2 separate regions of the Homo sapiens genome follow, and region 1 is linked to region 2. Evidence: fine-mapped expression QTL. A gene starts in region 2. The other region holds a variant in brackets. All regions are shown on one strand. Distances are from middle to middle.

What was found.
Region 1: its variant is fine-mapped to the expression of MESTIT1 in visceral fat (GTEx, PIP 0.97).

Annotation. Positions count from the first base shown.
Region 1 is chr7:130,891,585-130,894,493 of GRCh38, forward strand. All of the region lies in intron 6 of LINC-PINT (long intergenic non-protein coding RNA, p53 induced transcript), which reads right to left. Among named protein-coding and RNA genes, the nearest start is that of MIR29B1, 16 kb to the left of the region's middle. The variant C/A (reference allele first, on the strand shown) is at 1,780.
Region 2 is chr7:130,489,342-130,492,250 of GRCh38, forward strand. MESTIT1 (MEST intronic transcript 1, antisense RNA) reads right to left here and starts at 1,636. Exons shown (of 2, transcript NR_004382.2): 1 at 1,501-1,636; 2 at 1-626. It overlaps MEST (mesoderm specific transcript), which reads left to right and starts at 2,744. Exons shown (of 12, transcript NM_002402.4): 1 at 2,744-2,909. RefSeq lists a silencer at 1,572-1,781.

The sequences.
Region 1 (2,909 bases), 400 kb after region 2:
TGCCAAAAAAGAAACATTCTGAATCATTCAAAACCATTAAGAATGTTGGCTCTGACTTCAGAAAGGCAAGATAAACAGACCCGTGCCCAGCGGGAACTCACTTACTGGATGTCTCTGTGTTTTTAACTCATCGGTGCCTGAGTACTTCCCAGGTTCCTTCGAATGGCTTCAATGTTTAACGCTGTCACATTTGTACTATGAACTCCACTTTCATAAAGGCGGGGGCAGGGGGGTATTTAATTTGGTGCTAAGTGCTCATTAATCTTTTTAGTGTGGTCACCAGAACTGGCTTTTTTGCAGCCTCTAATCCAAAAGCAGGTTAATTCTCCTGCCCCACACAGGTTATAAAGTTAAGAAAATGTGGCACATATACACCATGGAATACTATGCAGCCATAAAAAATGATGAGTTCATGTCCTTTGTAGGGACATGGATGAAATTGGAAACCATCATTCTCAGCAAACTATCGCAAGAACAAAAAACCAAACACCGCATATTCTCACTCATAGGTGGGAATTGAACAATGAGATCACATGGACACAGGAAGGGGAATATCACACTCTGGGGACTGTGGTGGGGTCGGGGGAGGGGGGAGGGATAGCATTGGGAGATATACCTAATGCTAGATGACACGTTAGTGGGTGCAGCGCACCAGCATGGCACATGTATACATATGTAACTAACCTGCACAATGTGCACATGTACCCTAAAACTTAGAGTATAATAAAAAAAAAACATTAAATAAAAAAAAATAAAAAAAAAAAGAGTGAAAAAGTTGGGTCAAAAGATGAATCTGTTGTACATGTTGGTATATGTCACTGAATTGTCCTCTGGAAATGTGCCAAATCAATAAACTCATAAATGTCTTCTGAAAAAAAAAAAAAAAAAAAAAAAAAAAAAAGGAATAAAGCTTCCCCGCCCAGCCTTTAAAGTCCTTTTCCCCTAAACAATACTCCAAAATCAATGAATCTAGAGATTCTTTGCACCGGAGTGGTTTCCAAATCAATTGACCTCTAAGCTCCAAATGCATTTTGATTCTGCTTCTATTGATCTGAAATAATAAAGGCTATGGAATTGGGATATGGTTCTGGTTTCTAGTGGAGTTTACCTGAAAAACTAGGATACCTTTGACCATCCATATTTCTAGGAAGCCCTCTGACTATCCATATTTCTAGGAAACCCTTTGACCATCCATATGTGGCTACTTTTTTATACATACAGTACTCATGCAAAATAAACAGAAAAATAAAAGAGTAAATCCCAACTTCCAGGTGACAGTTTACAGCATATCTGGCAACTACGTGGTAGAGTTTAGTGGGCCTGCCAGAGTCCTTGTGTATGCCCCAGACATAGGCATACACACACAGAGCTCAAGAAAGCTGCTCAAGAAAATGACAGTCTTTTTTTTCTTTTTCTTTTTCTTTTGGGGGGAACTTTCACTGGTATAGAACTAACTGGGCACATAATGGGTAAGGACAAACACTGAAACTTTTTTTTTTTAAGTTAAAAAATTCCAGCTGGGCATGGGGTGGCTCATGCCTGTAATCCCAGCACTTTGGGAGGCTGAGGTGGGTGGATCACCTGAGGCCAGGGGTTCAACACCGGCTTGGCCAACATGGCAAAACCCCATCTCTACTAAAAATACAGAAATTAGCCAGGCGTGGTGGTGGGCACCTGTAATCCCAGCTACTTGGGAGGCTGAGGCAGGAGAATTGTTTGAACCCGGGAGGTGGAGGTTGTAGTGAGCTGAGATCATGCCACTGCACTCCAGCCTGGGCG[C/A]CAGAGCGAGACTCTGTCTCCAGAAAAAAAAAAAAAAAAAGTTAAAAATTCCATGTTCAGAAAGCAAGAGACACGGTGTTATTTTCTCCAATTCTGAAAGCTCCCAGTGGTGACAGCATCGTTAGCCATGTGTAACATGTGCATCCAGGCAACTGACTGTCACCAGACTTCTCCATGGCCTTACTCAAACTGAGTAAGCTGGTAGTATTTCCTAAGAGTTGTCACTCAGTTGTGAAAACAGAGAGCTTTTTGTTTTTTGGAAAATCCTGATCAGCCGAAATGACTGGGTGGTCAGCCTTGCCCATCTTTTGGCTACTTAGATAAAGGCTTCTTTTCCCAGGCAAGGAGAGAGATGATGGTTAACTTGCTTTTTAGACTGAGGTCATTGCTATTCGCTGGTGTAATGAATAAGCTAGACGTTTAAAAACAAAACAAAACAAAACAAAAAACCTCCTTTCAAAAGCAACCACATTTTTCTCTTCTCTGGAAATGAACAGAACGCGTCATGAACAGAACACGTCATAATTTTTTAAACATCCATCAGTGCCCATGAAAAAAATTTTTAAAAATAATCTGAATCTCACTTGTTTATTGCCTACAATATCAATCAATGGCTTAGGTATCTCTCCGTGTTCTATTACTTCTCACCGCTCTTAATTCATGAGGTCAAACAGAATCTTAAAACATCATTAAAAAATTTCCTCCCTTTCCATGTCTCAAGGTATCTGTAAATGGACAATTTGGGTGTGCTGAAATCAAATGACTGACCAAGGCCCATAACTGTGATCACAGGTAAAATGTTTTTCTGCTTTGCCAAAAATCCGAGTTTCCTTTGCTCTCTCTGTCAAGCTGAAAGAGCCCTCCCAGACCGAGGGGCCAGGTGGAGAGGCCACTCACACCCGCCCTGTGCCGGTCTACCTTGGATGGCCTCACCAGGGCACGGTTCCCGGGGTGGTGACTCAGCTCTGGAGGACCACCTGCTGCGTGGGGGTTGCTGCCTAGCAGGTCACTGCCAGTCACGAGGGCAGAGAGACCCAAAGGATCAGAGAACAGCTCTGAGCAGGTCAAGGGCAGTGCCAGAAGGAAAGCCTTTGTTTACAGAGGGAAAGATCCTGCACCTTGAAGTGAGG
Region 2 (2,909 bases):
CAGAGGAACTGAAAGGGTGCAACTTCGAGCAAGCCAGAGCCGACTTTGAATTTATGTGTGGCTGTGTGTTTTCTCAGGGCTCCAAGTGTTTTATACCTTGGGTCAAATTCTCCCCCTGCGGAGGAAGCTCCTTTCTGGAAGTAAATCAGGCACATTTAGAAGATTCGTTAACTCTTTGGCTCCTGGGGGATTATGGCCAGCATTTTCTCTCTTAGACTTCCCACAGCGAATTCCTGGTTGGGCCAAGCTGATATCTTTGAGCTGACTTCTGTACTCAGGGTTCTTCCAAACAGGAATATGCTTTCTCTGCCTAAGATCTGGGTTCCATGCCCATCTCAACCTCAATCCCTCCTTCAAGGAAGTTTTTCCTAACTCCTCGGCCAGACATCAATAATGTCTGAAGGGAGGATTTCTCCCGAGTGCCAGACTTGGAATTCCTGTTGTCTTCAGGAGCTCTCCCTGGCGCTCCCTCCTTCCCCCAGGGCCTTTAAACTGTTTCTCCTCCAGTCTGCCCACTTGATCCATGTGGGTAGACATGTTCCATGGCCTTCAGAATAAGATCTTTTGTGGGGTACTCAGTCCATAAACAGAAAATTGCCTTCATCTTGGATGCTGGTGTTTCTGGCCTGGTGAGAATGAAAGTGTGGAATTTGTTTGTAGGACTCAAAGTTTCCATTAACAATAAATATGAAAAATATATAATGCAAAGGCTTTTGTTATTGTTATTATTAAAATAGGAAAGCCTTTACCTTTTTGGAAGAACCGATTTAGATTTTGCAGAGTAATTCAGTCTTTAAAAGGTAGTGGTAGTTAAAATAGGTAATCTTTGACTTGTAAAGAGACTAATTTAAATTTTGTTAAGTAACCAATTAAGGCCATAAAGAGTTTAAATCCATCTGTGGCTTCTCATTTTCTCTAGAACAAATTCCTAATTCCCTACGATGAAATTCTCTTGCTATCCTAATTTTTTGCCGGCTCAAAGGACTAACCGTTTTCCCCAAACACGCGGCCCTGAGCCTCCGGTGCTTTGCGAAAGCCGTCCCCTCCGGCTGGAATGTTCTTTGTCTCTCTGGTAAATGTCTATTCATCATTCAAGACCACCCTTCGCCCCTCCCCTTAATTACTTCCTCCCCTGTGCGCCCTCAAATTCTTGTACTCATTCAAGCAGTATTTATTAGGGGCCAGCTTTGTGGCCGGCACCGTGGCGGGCTCTGGGGCTACAAAAGGTGAATAATACTTGGGCTCTGCCTCTGAGGGCCTTACACGTTAGGGAGGAGTGGGTCAACTGCCACAAACGTCGCTAGGAAATTAAAAGGAAAATTTTACAAAGTGGCAGTTCTTGTCTGTCTTCCCCTCCAGATGGCCCGTGTGTTGTTTTCGGGCCGGGGCTATTTCTCATTTATTTCGCACCCCCGGTTCTTAGTGCCCTGTAGGTGCTAAATCAGCATTTGTTTCATGAGTGCTTTTTCTGGGGGCAACCAGACCCCTGCAGAAGTGTACCTGTGTTGTGCCAGAGGTTCTGATGATAGGCTTATAGGCGGTAGTTTCCTCAGTGTCCGTGGGTCGCCCCCGGTCCCGGGTTGGATGCCCCGCGGTCCAGCACCGAACCTTTCGGGGTGCAGAGTTGCAGAGCCGCGGAGGGCCCGGGCCGTGCGCAGCCGAAGGGAGGCCTGCAGCGCCCCCTCTGGATGCAGCGGGCACCGGCCGGCCGCCCCGCTCACCCGCTCGCACCCCACGTTTGTTCACCAGTATTTCAGTTTACGGTCAGAAAATGAACACAGACACTTCGTGATACTCTACACTTTTCAAAGGCGTAAGGGATGCCTTTTAAAGGATTATGGATTAGAAAAATTCCTCCCTCTTTCTTGTGCCTCTGGGCCCTTGCATTGTGATTCTATCTTACGTAAATAAAGGGGGCTTTGCTCTCCTAATTGTGCCCACTGTTCTGTGCAGCGCGGACCGGCGCATGCAGCGAGCGGGGCTGCGAGGGCGCTGCTGTGGCCAGGCGTCTGGCATGCTGACCACGTCGCGCTGCTGTAAAGGAAACCTGCCCCGCGCAGCGGCGGTGGCTGGAGCGGGAGAAACCGGACTTTGTGCAACTTTGGCCATAGTGGCCATCCCATGAATCTGTTTACTAGCTTGGTGGTGGGTCCAACAGAGCTTGTTGCTCCCTAGCCGCTTGCTCGTGCCCTTGGTGGTTACCGGTAGTTAAGCTTAGGGCGCATAGGGCCCTCGTGGCTCGCCACCTCTCACGGTTCAGTACCCACGCTTCGAACGAGGGATGGGAGCAGGCGCCACGGCCGGCACCCCAGAGCCCTGCTGCCCCTTAGTTCGAGCGGCCATCCTCCTGTGGGGCTTGTGGGCAGCCTGTGGGGTTTGTGGGCGGCCTGTGGGGTTTGTGGGTGGTCTAAGGAAAGAGTTGGGGCACTCAGGGGTCTGCTGTTTTTGCCCGTGGCCTTAACTCATCAGGGGAGGGTTTCTGCAGCAGAATCTCGGGCTCAGGGTTGGCGGTTAACGAGGGAGCAGCGGGGTCTTGGGGAGGGGGCTCGACACCCCTGAAGGTGCCCCCTAAAGGAGCCACTGTTAGAGGGGCACCCCATCTTTGTGGCCATGGCGGTGGTAGAGCGGCTGGGAGGGGCTCTGCGGCGAGCAAGGGAGCAGGCGGTAGGGGTTCTGCGGCGATGGGCGGGCTAGGGGCGGGGCGCGGGTGGGCTCTAAAAGTCGGTGCCCACTCGCTCCGCGCTGCCGCGGCAACCAGCACACCCCGGCACCTCCTCTGCGGCAGCTGCGCCTCGCAAGCGCAGTGCCGCAGCGCACGCCGGAGTGGCTGTAGCTGCCCGGCGCGGCGCCGCCCTGCGCGGGCTGTGGGCTGCGGGCTGCGCCCCCGCTGCTGGCCAGCTCTGCACGGC